Regions from separate parts of the Homo sapiens genome. Here region 2 is linked to region 1. A link means that fine-mapping ties the variant in region 1 to the expression of a gene that starts in the linked region. Tissue or cell type: whole blood. Region 1 holds a variant in brackets; the other region holds the start of a gene. All regions are shown on one strand. Distances are from middle to middle.

Region 1 (8,262 bases):
ATTTGACCACAAAACCACTGTCATAAAAATAACATGGTGTTAGCACAGCAGTAGACAAATAGAGCCCATTGGTAGAATGCAATAGAAAGCCCAGAAATAAATCCAAGCTTGTATATATGGAAACTGAATATGTGACAAACGTGGCATTTCGAATCACTGCAGAAAAGGTGATTATTTAATAAATGATGCTGGCAGGCCGGGCGCAGTGGCTCATGCCTGTAATCTCAGCACTTTGGGAGGCTGAAGTGGGTGGATCACCTGAGGTCATAAGTTCGACACCAACCTGGCCAACATGGCAAAACCTCATCTCTACTAAAAATACAAAAATTAGCTAGGCATGGTGGCGGGCACCTGTAATCCCAGCTATTTGGGAGGCTGAGTCAGGAGAATTGCTTGAACCCAGGAGACGGCGGCTGCAGTGAGCTGAGATTGTGCAACTGCACTCCTGCCTGGGCGATAAGAGTAAAACTTCGTCTCAAAAAAAAAAATTAAATTAAAAAAAATGATGCTGGCATAATTGACTATCTTGATTTTTTTAAAGCTAGGTCTGCTTATCACAATGCTGACAGAGAAAAGATTTATATGTAAAAAAGAAAACAATAAGCATAGTAGAAGAAAATATAGAATATTTGTATAAGCTTATGGATGGGGAACATGTTCCAAAGTAATAGGAGAAACTCAGCCAGGCACAGTGGCTCATGCCTGTAATCCCACCACTTTGGGAGGCCCAGGCAGGTGGATCACTTGAGATCAGGAATTCGATACCAGCCTGACCAACATGGTGAAACTCCATCTCTACTAAAAATACAAAAGTAGCCAGGTGTAGTGGCACATGCCTGTAATCCCAGCTACTTGGGAGGCTGAGGCAGGAGAATCACTTGAACCCAGGAGGCGGAGGTTGCAGTGAGCCGAGATCGCGCCATCGCACTCCAGCCTGGGCAATGAGAGTGAAACTCTGTCCCTCCACCTGCAATAAAAAGGAGAAACTCAGAAATCATAAAGAAAAAGATAGATATCTGTGTAGGCGTGCAATCAAATGTTTAATTTTGATAGGACAAAACAGATCCATCCCGTAAGCAAAGCCAAAAAACAAAAGATCAACTGGGAAAAATATTTGCAGTACCTATGATAGAAAGGAGGTTGGGGGCTGGGCACGGTGGCTCCCGCCTGTAATCCAAACACTTTGAGAGGCCGAGGTGGGTGGATCACTTGAGGTCAGAAGTTCGAGACCAGCCTGGCCAACATGGCAAAACCATGTCTCTACAAAAAATACAAAAATTAGCTGGGCATGGTGGTGCACACCTGTAGTCCCAGCTACTTGAAAGCCTGAGGCAGGAGGAGAGCTTGAGGTCAAGGCTGCAGTGGGCCATATTTGCGTCACTGCATTCCAGCCTTGGTGACAAAGAGAGTCTCAAAAAGAAAAAAGATTCATATCGGAAAAGTACAAATTGGTCAAAGGTCTAGGCTTTGTAATCTCCCAACTGTAGAGGTGACAGAAACTGGCTTTTTCCCAGAAAGAGGGACTGGGCCATCCAAACAGTCCCAACATGTCTGTTGCTTTCACAGCCATGAAAATGATCATGAGAATGCCATTAATATGTCTAATGATAGCTCCATATATTGGACACTTACATATTAATGTGTAGAATACCTTATGTTAAACACATACCGTTTATGTGTACAGACACGCAAATATGAATATACTCACATATGTGGATAAATGTGTGTGTAGGGAGTGTAAATAAGTAAAGGACATGCAAAGTTACACATCAAACCGATTCCCTCGGGGCAAAAAGGGTAGGGTAGGGGATTGAGATTAGGCATAGCGTTCCCAGGAGACTTCAGCATTATTTAAAATGCTTTTATTTTTAATAAGAATGTATTTACTGGGTAATGAAAGATTAGTTTCTCTTAAAAATATGACTCCAATCAAATTCCCGTCAGGATTTTAATGGAATAATAAGCTGATTTATTAAATAAAAAGAACAGTAAGTGAACAAGAATATTCAAGAAAATTTTTTAAAAAGGAAAACATGAAAACATATCATAAAACTATAATGATTAAGGCTGGGTGCGGTGGCTCTTGCTTGTAATCCCAGCACTTTGGGAGGCTGAGGCGGGCAGACTGCTTGAGTCCAGGAGTTCAAGACCAGCCTGGGCAACACGGCGAAACCCTGTCTCTACAAAAAATACAAAAATTAGCTGGGCATGGGGGCATGTGCCTATAGGCCCAGCTACTCAGGAGGCTGACGTGGGACAATTGCTTGAGCCTGGGAGGTGGAGGCTGCAGTGAGCTGAGATTGGGCCACTGCACTCCAGCAAGGATGACAGAGTGAGACCCTGTCTCAAAAAAAAAACAAAAAAAAAACCCTCAAAACCAAACAAACAAACAGAAAACAAACTACTACAATGATTAAAACAACATAGAATTGGCTTATAATTTAATAAATAGATCAACGTAAGAGAATCAGGAATTCAGAAACAGACCGATGTTGTGCAGGAATTTGGTAAATAAGACAGAGGGCTTTTTTTTTTTTTTTTTTGAGATGGAGTCTAGTTCTGTCACTCAGGCTGGAGTGCGGTGGCACGAGCTCGGATCATTGCAACCTCCGCCTCCCAGGCTCAAGCAATTCTCCTGCCTCAGTCTCCCGAGTAGCTGGGATTACAGGCGCCTACCACCACGCCCGGCTAATTTCTGTATTTTTAGTAGAGACAGGGTTTCGCCATGTTTGGCCAGGCTGGTCTCGAACTCCTGACCTCAGGTGATCCACCCGCCTCGGCCTCCCAAAGTGCTGGGATTACAGGCGTGAGCCACGGCGCCTGGCCTAAAAAGATAACCTTTTAAAGATGTATTCCTGCCAGACTACTGGGTGTCTTTCTGTCTGTCTCTCTGCTTTACTGGCATTCGTCCCAGTTCTCATGCACTTGGGGTTTTCTCCACATGTTTCGTAGCCATGCAGATTTGATTTTTTTCCTGAAATAGTGCTACTGTGTCTCTTTAACAGGTGAGGAAAACAAGGCCCAGGGAATTAAGTGACTGACATAAGCACATATGGCTACTCAGTGGCAGAGGTTCCTGTGTGTCTGGCTACCTGGCTTTTCCTATTTGGCTTCCTGCCCATCTCTGTCACTATCTTTCCCTCTGACTCTTGTTTCTCTCTCTCCTCTGTCTCTCTTTTGCAAAGCTGCCAATTTTAACAAGTCCAAAATGTTGTAGAGTTAAATGGTTAAGAACAAGGACTCTGGAGCCAGTTCAGCCACTGCCTGAGTTCAAATCTTGCTCTTCAACTTACTGTCTGTATAACTGGGACGAGTCCTGTCACCTCTCTGAGCCTCAGTTTCCTCATCTATAATATGGGGAAAATGATTGTCCCTACTCTATAGGATTATTTTGACAATTCAGTGAAAAAATATTATGTGCACAGAATGGCCCTAAGTGTTCACTACACATTAGCTAGTTATATGTTATTATGACATCAATAAAGTGCTCGACTCATCCCAAATGGGCACATGAGTTTCCTGAGGCTGGGAACCACATCTTCCACTCCACAACTATTTAAAACAATTTTGAACCTACAATAAAGTTAAAAGAATACACTGAACACCCATACATACTTCATCTAGATCCTCTATTAACATTTTTTTGGGCCACATTTGCTTTATCTCACTCTCTCTGTATATAAACACATTATTTTTGCCAACTTATTTGCAGACATCATGACATTTTACCCCTTCATACTTAACTGTGTCTTTCCCAAGAACAAGGATATTTTCCTTCAATAGATATGATACCACTACCACACTGCTATGGTTTGAATGTGTCCTTCCAAATTCATGTGTTGCAATTTAATTACCAATGTGATCATATTAAGAGGTGGGGGCCTTTAAGAGGTGATTAAGTCCTGAGGGTAGAGCTCTCACAGATGGGATTAGGGCTCTTTTTTTATTTTTTATTTTATTTATTTTTTGAGATGGAGTCTTGCTCTGTTGCCCAGGCTGGAGTGCAGTGGTGCGATCTTGGCTCACTGCAAGCTCCGCCTCCCGGGTTCATGCCATTCTCCTGCCTCAGCCTCCCGAGTAGCTGGGACTACAGGCACCCGCCACCACGCCCGGCTATTTTTTTGTATTTTTAGTAAAGACAGGGTTTCACCGTGTTAGCCAGGGTGGTCTCGATCTCCTGACCTTGTGATCTGCCCGCCTCGGCCTCCTAAACTGCTGGGATTACAGGCGTGAGCCACCGTGCTCAGCCTCTTTTTTTTTTTTTTTTTGAGATGAAGTCTCGCTCTGTCACCCAGGCTGGAGTGCAGTGGCAAGATCTTGGCTCACTGCAACCTCTGCTTTTCGGGTTCAAGCGATTCTCATGCCTCAGCCTCCCGAGTAGCTGGGATTATAGGCATGTGCCACTACACCCGGCTAATTTTTGTATTTTTTTTAGTAGAGACAGGGTTTCACCATGTTGGCCAGGATGGTCTCGAACTCCTGACTTCAGGTGATCCGCCTGCCTCAGCCTCCCAAAGTGCTGGGACTACAGGCATGAGCCACCGTGCCCAGCGGATTTGGGCTCTTATAAAGAGGTTGAGGGTGTGGGTTCACTCTCTTCTGCTCTTCTGTCATGTGAGGATGCAGCAAGAAAGCCCTCACTAGACACACAACCTGCCAGCACCTTGATCTTGGACTTCCCAGTCTCCAAAACTGTGAGAAATAAATTTCTCTTCTTTACAAATTCCTCAGTCTGTGGTATTCTGTTATAGTAGCACAAAACGACTAAGACACACACCCAGGAAATTTAATACTGATACAATTATCTAATGTATGGTCTGTAATCAAATTTTGAGACCACGTCCTAATTTATCTGTGTGCT[C/T]GCAGGGACCAGAATAGGCAAGAGTGGAAGAACAAAGATGAGAAGAGAAAAAGTGGCTGAGAGGTCAAGGGAACAAATGAATGAGTGAGCAAGAATACAAACAAATGAATATGGGTGCAGAATGACTGAATGAATAAACACAACTAGCATTATTATAATACGCATTGTTATATTTAGGTATTATAACTGAAATACATAATGCTAAAGCTATACCGTTATACTATATTATAAATCTGCATTATATCTAATTATTACATACATTACTCGGTTATATGTTATAATAGTATAATACAATATAATTATCATTATTAGAGATAACACTTTCTGAGCCTTCATTATGCAGTCATGCACTGTTCCAGGCATTTTATATGAATTTCCCCTCACAATGGTTCTAAGATACAAGGCCTCACAATGGTTCTAAGATACAATTATCTCTTTACAAGTGAAGAAATTGTGGCCTAGTGGCTGAGCCAGGATCTATAGCTAGGATACCTTGCTACCCATCCCACCATGAGGGAGTGTACTGTGAGGGGTAGCATCACCCTATGGGGTAAAGGGGTTCCAGAGCAGTGCTCCTGGGGGCACTGAGTACTCACTGTCCTCCGAGGGCCGAATATCTACACGCAATTGCAGGTAAGGTTTGGAGGCAGTGGCAAAGGCTGTGCTGAGGTCCCAGTCAGATAGAAGTGAGAGGTAAACTTCCTGTCCTAGCCGGTCCCGGCCCAGGTAGCTGATGCCAAAGTTCTTCTTCCTGGACAGGGGATACGAGGGAGCTCTCAGGGCCCCTGGTGCCCTGGAGGCCTCAGGGACAGTTTCCAAAACAAGGAGGGTAATATAGAAGGCGTTGAAAACAACTTCCTACTATGTGCAAGGTACTGTGCCAAGGATTATGGGCAGCCTGAGATCAGGTCATTTATACCCACTTTGTTACACAAACACATACAAGCAGGTACACACCTGCTTGTATCTGGAGGTCACATTGGAAACTGGTAAAATGTTGGCCGGGTGCAGTGGCTCACGCCTATAATCTCCGCACTTTGGGAGGCCGAGGTGGGTGGATCACCTGAGGTCAGGAGTTTGAGACTAGCCTGGTCAACATGGTGAAACCCCTTCTGTACTAAAAATACAAAAAAAATTAGCTGGGTGTGGTGGCAGGTGCCTGTAATCCCAGCTACTCAGGAGGCTGAGGCAGGAGAATCGCTTGAACCTGGGAGGTGGAGGTTGCAGTGAGCCAAGATTGTGGCATTGCACTCCAACCTGGGTGACAGAGCAAGACTCCATCTCAAAAAAAAAAAAAAAAGTTGGTCCCCTCTGGGGTAGATGTGGGACAGAAGTGGGAAGAAAGCAGCCTTCTTACTACATAAAAAAAAAGCAATCTGTGTTTGTTATTTTTCACAACAAAAATGTTTATGTAAGAAAGTCTAATAACAACTAAGAATTTTTCAGCTATACTTGTGCAACTATGTAAAGAAGTTTGTTGCGTGATGCTCATCATAACCATGGAAACATCCTAAATACCCAACAATTGTGTACTGTTTGAATTTCTTACCATGTGTATGTATTCCTCCAAAATCACAACAAAATGACTATCACATCTGCCCCCAAGAGACACCACTTTTCAGCTATCAGATTGGCAAATTTTGCAGTTTTACAGTAACCAATGTTTGCGAGGGTGTGAGGGAAACAGGCATTTATGTGCTGCTGATGAGATCATAAATTCGTTTTTTTTTTTTTTTGAGACGGAGTCTCACTCTGTCGCCCAGTCTGGAGTGCAATGGTGCGATCTCGGCTCGCTGCAAGCTCCGCCTCCCGGGCCCATGCCATTCTCCTGCCTCAGCCTCCCAAGTAGCTGGGACTACAGGCGCCCACCACCACGCCTGGAGAATTTTTTGTATTTTTAGTAGAGACGGAGTTTCACCGTGTTAGCCAGGATGGTCTTGATCTCCTGACCTCGTGATCCACCTGCCTCAGCCTCCCAAAGTGCTGGGATTACAGGCATGAGCCACAGCGCCCGGCTGAGATCATAAATTGATAAAACCTGTCTGGAGAGCATTTTGGAAACACCCATTAATAGTTCAAAAAGCAGGCCAGGTGCGGTGGCTCATGCCTGTAATCCCAGCACTTTGGGAGGCTGAGGCGGGTGGATCACGAGGTCAGGAGATCGAGACGATCCTGGCCAACACGGTGAAACCCCATCTCTACTAAAAATACAAAAATTAGCCGGGCATGGTGGCGCACGCCTGTAGTACCAGCTACTCAGGAGGCCGAGGCAGGAGAATTGCTTGAACTCAGGAGGTGGAGGTTGCAATGAGACGAGATCACACCACTGCACTCCAGCCTGGACGACAGAATGAGACTGTCTCAAAAAAAAAATTTTTTTTAAAGCAAATACCCTTTTACCTGGCAATACCACTGCTAGGAATTTATCCTATGACTAGATGTTTCCAAATACAGTAGTCCCTCTTTATCTACAGGGGATACATTCCAAGACCCCCCCGAGTGGATGCCTGAAACTGCAGATAGTACCAAGCCCTATATATACTATGTTTTTTTTCATATACATACATACCTATGATAAGGTTTAATTGATAAATTAGGCACAGTAAGAGATTAACAATAATAGAACAATTATGACAATACAGATGCTTCTTGACTTATGACAGGGTTATGTACCAATAAACTCATCGTAAGTTGGAAATACTGTAAGTTGACAATGCATTTGGCTGGGCGCAGTGGCTCACCTGTAATCCCAGCACTTTGAGAGGCTGAGGCGGGCGGATTGCTTGAGCTCAGGAGTTTGAGACTGCCCTGGGCAACATGGCGAAACCCTGTCTCTACTAAAGATACAAAAAATTGGCCGGGTGCGGAGGCTCACGTGCCTGTAATCCTAACACTTTGGGAGGCCGAGGTGGGCGGATCACTTGAGATCAGGAGTTTGAGACCAGCCTGACCAACCTCATGAAAATTAGCTGAGTGTGGTGGTGCACACCTGTAATCCCAGCTACTCTGGAGGCTGAGGCATGAGAATCACTTGAACCCGGGAGGCAAAGGCTGCAATGAGCCAACATCGGACCACTGCACTCCAACCTAAGTGACAGAGTGAGACTCTGTCTCCAAAAAAAAAAAAAAGAGAAGATCAAAAAACTATCTGGGACTGGGTGCGGGGGCTTACACCTGTAATCCTAGCACTTTGGGAGGCCGAGGTGGACAGGTAACTTGAGGTCAGGTGTTCGAGACTAGCCTGACCAACATGGTGAAACCTTGTCTCTAATAAAAATACAAAAATTAGCAGGCGTGGTGGTGCGTGCCTGTAATCCCAGCTACTTGGGAGGCTGAGGCAGGAGAATCACTTGAACCCGGGAAGCGGAGGTTGCAGTGAGCTGAGACTGCGCCACTGCACT
Region 2 (8,000 bases), 27 kb before region 1:
AAACTGGTAAAAAGAAAAATACTCAGGTTCTACAAACGTCCCATAATTTGTCTTTAAATAGGCAGAAAAAATTTAAAAAAAAAGATGGAACTGTCTAAAAGGTCTTCAGCTACCTTGGCAGGTCAATTTAAAAACAAAAGGTTGATATACTATAAAATAAGATGCTTCGGTGCAGCTCCAAAAACCTTTATAAATACAGCCATTTGGAAGGACGATCCTGGATCAGAAATTATTCCTTGTGTATCTGGGAACAGCAAGAGGGGGAGAATTGTGATGTCATGAAGTAACAGCTGACAACATGCTCACCTCCTAGAGCTGATGAAGATGCTGAGGGTTGGACAACAGGGACACACCTTCATTTCCTCCATCCCACACAAGAGTAGAAGATTATAGGAGATGGGTTTTCAGATCCCACCCCCTAGCAAACTTGCTCTGATATGCACCTGAGAGCAAGGAAGGCCTAGCTAGGAATGTTTGGTAGGTTGGCTGGGTGAGGTATGAGGGCAGCAGAAATGCAGAGCAGTCTTGCCAGAAAAGGTGAGAGGGTCATGACAGAGTGTGACAAACAGGTTCACTCAATGCCGATATCCAAGTCTCACCTATATTATGTGCATGTCTCATTTCAGTTGTCATAATTGTCTCTGTAATTTCCTCCTGAGTAGCGGTCATAACCACCCTGGTTTCTGGGGGGGAAAAAAAACACACAAAAGTTTTCTGGTACTGCATTATATATACCACTGTAATTATATGCGTCACATTTTACAGTATGGGTCATAACATAAACCTTACGTATCAAAAACAGGATATGTTAAGCATATGAGTATCACAGTAAACAGTTTTATGGCATACGATTTATACGCAGTATATTAAATCATATTACATGTTAAAGCAATATAGTTATATAACCCACACAGCACAACATATATAGTATACTTTACCATGTCGCAACTATATGACTACACAATTAACTTAAAATGCTAAATTTCATACTCATTTTAGGTACACATTAGTAACAGCAAGGTGTGGTATGCATGAACACCCAGGCGCTGAGTTCTTAAGGAGAGGGAAGCAATAGGAGAACATCCCAGCCCTTTGGCTACCCACCTGCCATTATAGTCTCTGGAACGTCCATATCCATATCCATACCCTCCAGGTCGACTGTCATAATACCTGCCACTCCCATAGCCCTGGTCCCCACCACCTAGAGCAGAAAAATATTTAAATGGCAGTTGTCCACACATAGGCAACTCTCCCTCTCACCCCATGATCAAAACGATCACTGCACTCACCTCTAGAGTAGCTGCGACCACGCCCATGGGCCCCAAAGCCACCTCCTCTGGTTCCCCGAGCAGACTTGCCTGCATGATCCACACGGATCTGACGACCATCCAGAGACTAAGTGTGGGAGACACAAGGATGATGGGTTGGCAGTCAGTCAGGGCAATGGTGAGGGAAGAGCAGGCAAGGGTAAGTGGGCAAAAGAGGCCAAAAATTCCTGCTGGGCACCAGGTTCTGGGTGCCATGTTCCAGAATAAGCTCCTTTACCCCAGAATGGCTTCATCAGGAGCTATAGAATCCCACACAAAATGACCTGAATGCACCATGTTCCCCTTGCTACTACTTACATCTTGACTGAACTCAGGCTGAGTTCTCCTCCCCACTCCTCTAAGCTGCCCGACTATCAGGGCTAGACAGACACCTCTCTTGGTTTGAGGCTTCAGAGTCCATGTCAGAAGACTCACGAGGTCCTCTCCGGGCCAGGCCCACAGGTCTGCAGACTCTACTACCTAAGCCCAAGGCAGGTCAACCATCCACAGGTGGCTTCTCGGCCTCATGCAGGACCAGTCGTCGCCTCCCAGGCGGCCAGGCTCTGTCTGCCGCTGCCCTCCACCCCCTAGAACAAAAGGCAGTCATGCTCCTGTGAGTGGGCACTGCGGGGCTTGGTGGCCACGCTGCCCCGAGCAGACACAGAGGGAAAAACAAAAAGAATGAAGGAAGCCGCAGATGGGGACAAGGTCCCTCTGCAGATAGGAGGCCCCACCTCTCCGTTCATGGCTCTCATGGCAACTGAAGCATGCTCTGGGTTGGTGAAGGTGATGAAACCAAAACCCCTGGACCGCTGAGTCTCCCGGTCCTTGACAACGACCACTGTGAGAGGGAGAGAAGATGGAGCAATGTGGACCAGTCAGTACCCCAAAGGTTAAGTAGCAAAGGGTGGCCGGAAAAGGAGATGGCATAGGTAGGGAAAACGGAGCGCTCCCACTAATCCCAAAGACGCTTCCCCTCATCCTTAGTCTACACCATAGGCTTAGGAAGAAAAAGAATTTGGAGGCGTGGGTCCTAACTTTTCAGTTAATACTCCTTGAAATGCAAGGATCCCAGACTTTCTCTCACCAACCCCCATTGTGAGTATGGCCCGTCTCACCCTCAGAGATAGGTCCGAAACTGCTGAAGTGGTCTTCCAGTGCCTGCTCGTCGGTGTTAAAGTTGAGCCCTCCCACGAAGAGCTTTCCTTCTTCAGAGGACATGGCAGTTCAAGTCCTGTGGGAAGAACATGAAGAATGGTGGCAGGAAGGAGAAAGAAAATGGAGATGTGAGAAAATAGCGAGACGGAAAGCAGAGAAAAAGCACAGAAAATAGACAAGAAAGAGGAACAAAATATGGGTAACTACAGAAAAGCTGAGAAAGGCGGCCAATAAGGTGGTAATCTGAGGAGCTGGCTCAGCGCAGCCACCATTAGGGGGCCACATTGCGCATGCTCTCACATTCATAGCCGCCACGCCCGTCATTTTGTGCCACTGCGCAAGCCCAGAACATCCCTGCGTTCCCTTAACGCCGGCAGAACAAGATGGCGGCGGCCACGTGGGATAAGGAAAGTAAGTGTCGGCTGTCGCGTGGTCACTGCCACCACCGACGCCACCAGTCCCTCCCGGTAGGCCTCACACTCAGATACAGCGCGCCGGCCTCCCACCAACCGAAATGTTTCACCTCCAAGCACGGGACCCGCCCGTCCCAGAGAAAGCCAAGCCTACGTGTCAGTGGCCATTACTCTCCCCACTCGCTATTCCCCGGTCACGGCCGGCGCGGCGCGTGTGTGGCGAGGAGCCGCCGTTTCGCAGGACATATGCAACTTACCTGGAAATTAAAACGTAAAAAACCCGGACGAACAGCGAGCTCGGAGGAGCACAAAAAACAGGGACGGGGCTGCGCCGGAAGACGATTGATAAAGAGTACGTAGCGAGAACGTCCCGGAACGTTCCCCTTGCGCGTCCCGGCGTGCGTGCTGATTGGCTGAGGCCAGCAGGAGCGGAGTGGTGGGGAGAGGAAGGGACAGCAAAGCGAAGGGAGCAGTGTTCTCCGCGAAATGGGGTGTTTCCGGAAATGGGGTGTTTCCGGAAATGGGGTCGACTTTTGAACAGCTGGTGCACCCTAAACGTCAGCATCCCCCCCACAACCGGCTGAGCTGCCTTTATCCCTTCCACAAAGGAACCTTCTCAATCTCATACTACTTGCTGTCCCTGACATCATCCTCCCGTCCTTGCCATCATTTCCCCCGCTGGATCGGATGTCTTCCTCACCATCGTAGTCGTCTTCCTCTAGGTCCCTGCCATTCTCTGATGTTAACCTCCTTCACCTTCTAGTTCTTTAACCTCATACCCTTTAAAGGCCTGACATTTTATCCCCCACCGTCACTGATGTCATCACCCTTCACAGTCCATGATGTCAGACCCAACGTTTTAAGGTTTGACCCTGACTCCTACTCTTTCTCCTCTGTGCTCAACATCTAGCCGCCTGTCATGGGACCCTTTTCCCTGGCGTCATTCCATCTCATCTCTGACTTCAGCCCTCACCCTTGTCTGACTGCTGGCGTGAAGCCAGCCCCTTAATTTTCTCACCAATAGACTGCCTGAGATGGCTTTTACAAAACAGGATGCTGGCCGGGCGCGGTGGCTCACGCCTGTATTCCCAGCACTTTGGGAGGCCAAAGCGGGCGGTTCACGAGTTCAGGAGTTCGAGACCTGCATGGCCAACATGGTGAAACCCCATCTCTACTAAAAATACAAAAAAAAAAAAAAAAAAAAAAAAAGAAAAAAAAAATTAGCTGGGTGTGGTGGCACGTGCCTGTAGTCCCACCTACTCGGGAGGCTGAGGCTGGAAAATCGCTTGAACCCGGGAGGCGGAGGTTGCAGTGAGCCGAGACCACGCCATTGCACTCCAGCCTGGGTGAAAACAAAACAAAACAAAAGAGGATGCTACGATCTTCAGAGGTTGTAAATCCCAATCCATAGAGCAATTTTTGCTCTCTTCGAAAGTAACTGAGCCCTTGCCGGGCGCAGTGGCTCATGCCTGTAATCCCAGCACTTTGGGAGGCCGAAGTGGGCAGATCACAAGGTCAGGAGTTCAAGACTACCCTGGCCAATATGGTGAAACCCTGTCTCTACTAACAATACAAAAAAAAAAAAAAATTAGCCGGGCGTGGTGGTAGGCACCTGTAGTCCCAGCTACTCAGGAGGCTGAGGCGGGATAATCGCTTGAACCCGGGAGGTGGAGGTTGCAGTGAGCTGAGATCATGCCACTGCACTCCAGCTTGGGCGACAGAGCAAGACTCAGTCTCAAAAAAAAAAAAAAAGTAACTGAGCCCTTGATTCACAGAAGGGACTTTCGCAATACACAATAGACTTATCCCAATCAAGTAGTGTCTGAGCCCACTGTTCACAATTTAGTCTTCAGTGTCTTGGCCACCTTTACAATAAATGGATTTGACAGATTTTTCACTTCTGAGCGCCACATCAACGAAGAATAAGTTAGTTTGCCCTCAGAGGCTAAATTTCTTATCCATAGAATGAATTTGCCCAACACAGACCAAATTTGCTAACATACAGAATACAGTACATCCATATTCCTGTTGGGGTAATTCCCATATTTATCTTCCTGTTATTGTCAGGGATTCCTCACATAGTCTAATTATTAATCCCTTAGGTGTTGGAAATAGCCTCTCCAGCTCTGGCATTTGTGTTATTAACTTTGTAAGCAGTAAACTTAGTTGAATAAAGATCCATAATTTTGATATAATCATTTTTCCCCCTATGTTCTGTGCTTTTTTCTGAGACGGAGTCTCACTCTGTCGCTCAGGCTGGAGTGCAGTGGCATGATCTCAGCTCACTGCAACCTCCGCCTCCCAGGTTCAAGTGATTCTCCTGCTTTAGTCTCCTGAGTAGCTGGGATTACGGGCATGTGCCACTATGCCCAGCTAATTTTTGTATTTTTAGTAGAGATGAGGTTTCACCATGTTGTTCAGGCTGTTCTCAAACTCCTGACTTCATGATCCGCCTGCCTCGGCCTCCCAAAGTGCTGGGATTACAGGCGTGAGCCACCACGCCCGGCCTGGTCTGTGCTTTTAAAGAAATCATTCTCTTTCCCAGGTCACAAAATGTTCCCCTACAGTTTCTTTCTTTCTTTCTTTTTTTTTTTTTTTGACAGAGTTTCGCTCTTGTTGCCCAGGCTGGAGTGCAATGGCACTATCTCGGCTCACTGCAACCTCCGCCTCCTGGGTTCAAGCAATTCTCCTGCCTCAGCCTGCTGCGTAGCTAGGATTACAGGTGTGTGCCACCACACCTGGCTAATTTTTGCATTTTTAGTAGAGACAGGTTTTTGCCATGTTGGCCAGGCTGGTCTTGAACTCCTGGCCTCAAGTGATTCGCCTGCCTCGGCCTCCCAAAGTGCTGGGATTACAGGCATGAGCCACCGCACCCGGCCACATTTAGGTCTTTAATCCATGTAGAGTTCGTCCTTGTATATGGTGTGAGATAGAGCTCCAATTTTATTTTTCTCTGTGTCATGAGCCAGATGCCCCATCACCATCTATTAAGCAATCTGTCCCATCCCTGTGTGTGTTTTACCACCTCTATCATGTATCAAGTTCCATAGATATATGGGTCTGTCTCTGAGGTGGTTTGTTGCTGGTTTTGTTGTTATTGTTGTTTTTAAGAGATGAGCCCAGGCTGACTCCTGGCCTCAAGCATTCTCCCCAACTCAGCCTCCTGAGTAACTGGGATTACAGGGGAGCACTATTGTACCTGACTTCTGAGCTTTTTTTTTTTTTTTGACAGAGTCTCACTCTGTCGCCAGGCTGGAGTGCAGTGGCGCGATCTTGGCTCACTGCAACCTCCGCCTCCTGGGTTCAAGTGATTTTCCTGCCTCAGCCTCCTGAGTAGCTGGGACTACAGGCGCGTGCAACCACGCCCAGCTAATTTTTGTATTTTTAGTAGAGATGGGGTTTCACCATGTTGGCCAGGATGGTCTTTTTTTTTGAGACGGAGTCTCGCTCTGTCGCTCAGGCTGGAGTGCAGTGGCGCGATCTCGGCTCACTGTAAGCTCTGCCTTCCAGGTTCACGCCTCAGCCTCCCGAGTAGCTGGGACTACAGGCGCCTGCTACCGCACCCAGCCAATTTTTTTTTTTTGTATTTTTTAGTAGAGGCGGGGTTTCACCGTGGTCTGGATCTCCTGACCTTGTGATCTGCCCACCTCGGCCTCCAAAAGTGCTGGTATTACAGGTGTGAGCCACCGTGCCCGGCCTTCTCTTCTAATTGGTCTACTTCTTAGCTCTTGGGCCAATATAGGTTTGTTGTTGTTTTTTTTTTCCCTTTTATTACTAACACCTTTAATATGTCTTAATATCTAGTGGGCAAATCCCCATCATAACGCTTTCTTTGAAGGCTGTCTTAACTGTCCATGATTCATTACTATTCTAAATTCTAATGTAAGTGTATTGCAGTTCTAACAAAAAGAAGTAATGAGGTCAGGCATGGTGGCTCTCGCCCAAATCCCAGCTACCTGGGAGGCTGAGGCAGGAGGATCGCTTGAACCCAGGAGTTGGAGTCTGCAGTGAGCTATGATCGTGCCACTGCACTCCAGCCTGGGCAACAAAGTGAGACCCTGTTTCAAAACATTAAAAAAAAAAGTAATGGAAGTGTTATTGAGAGTGCATTGAATTTTTACATTTTGGGAGAAATAACGTCTTTTTTTTTGAGATGGAGTTTCGCTCTTGTTGCCCAGGCTGGAGTAAAATGGTGCAATCTCGGCTCACTGCAACCTCCGCCTCCCGGGTTCAAGCAATTCTCCTGCTTCAGCCTCCTGGGTAGCTGGAACTACAGGCACCCACCATTATGCTCGGCTAATTTTGTATTTTTAGCAGAGACGGGGTTTGTCTATGTTGGTCAGGCTGGTCTCAAACTCCTGACCTCAGGTGATCCACCCACCTCGGCCTCCCAAAGTGCTGGGATTACAGGTGTGAGCCACCATGCCCGGCCAAAATAACATCTTAATAATATTAACTGTGGAGGTTTTAAGATATGGTCACACTCTGATACTGTACTCGTCAAGAGTTGGAGCCTAACTTCCTTCCACTTGCATGTGTGCTGGACTTAGTGACTCAATTGTAAAGCACAGAATGAGGTGGAAGTGATAGTGTGTCATTTCCAAGACCAGGCTGTAAAAGGCACATCTGCTTCATGCTCTCTGTCACACAGACTGCTCATTATGTGGGACATTAGCTGGTATGTCATGAGCAGCCCTATGGAGGGATCTAGGTGGCAAGAAAGTAAGGCCTCTTGCCAACAGCCATGTGAGCAAGCCTTCTTAAAGGTGGATCCCAGCCTTCAGATAACTGCAGTCCTGGCCAACATCCTGATTGTAGCCTCATGAGAGGCTCTGAGTCAGAACCACCCAGTTAAGCCACTCTCAGAATCCTGACTCTCCAAAACCATGTGAAATAATAAATGTGTATTGTTTTAGCCACTAAGTTTTGGGATAATTTGTTAAAAATAACTTATATATTACCAAAATCTTTCCAGCAAAGAGCATAAAATGTCTCTCTTTTATTCAGATCAATTTCTATTGTTAGAGTTTAAATTCTTTAAAATAGAGGTCTCTTGTATTAAATTCATTCCTACTTTTTTTTTTTGTTGGTTATTGCTGCTATACAGAAATGCTTTTGATTT

Evidence for each region. PIP is the estimated chance that this variant, and not a neighbour inherited with it, causes the effect.
Region 2: RBM3 starts here. The variant in region 1 is fine-mapped to the expression of RBM3 in whole blood (TOPMed, PIP above 0.99).

The regions. Positions count from the first base shown.
Region 1 is chrX:48,542,219-48,550,480 of GRCh38, reverse strand. It overlaps TBC1D25 (TBC1 domain family member 25), which reads right to left. Exons shown (of 6, transcript NM_002536.4): 3 at 5,458-5,612. Among named protein-coding and RNA genes, the nearest start is that of TBC1D25, 6.6 kb to the right of the region's middle. The variant C/T (reference allele first, on the strand shown) is at 4,862.
Region 2 is chrX:48,569,709-48,577,708 of GRCh38, reverse strand. It overlaps RBM3 (RNA binding motif protein 3), which reads right to left and starts at 3,225. Exons shown (of 7, transcript NM_006743.5): 1 at 3,136-3,225; 2 at 2,426-2,541; 3 at 2,042-2,148; 4 at 1,290-1,395; 5 at 1,105-1,201; 6 at 600-683; 7 at 1-244. The coding sequence starts at 2,528. The coding sequence ends at 623. RefSeq lists enhancers at 2,898-3,167, 2,151-3,350 and a cis regulatory region at 3,107-4,092.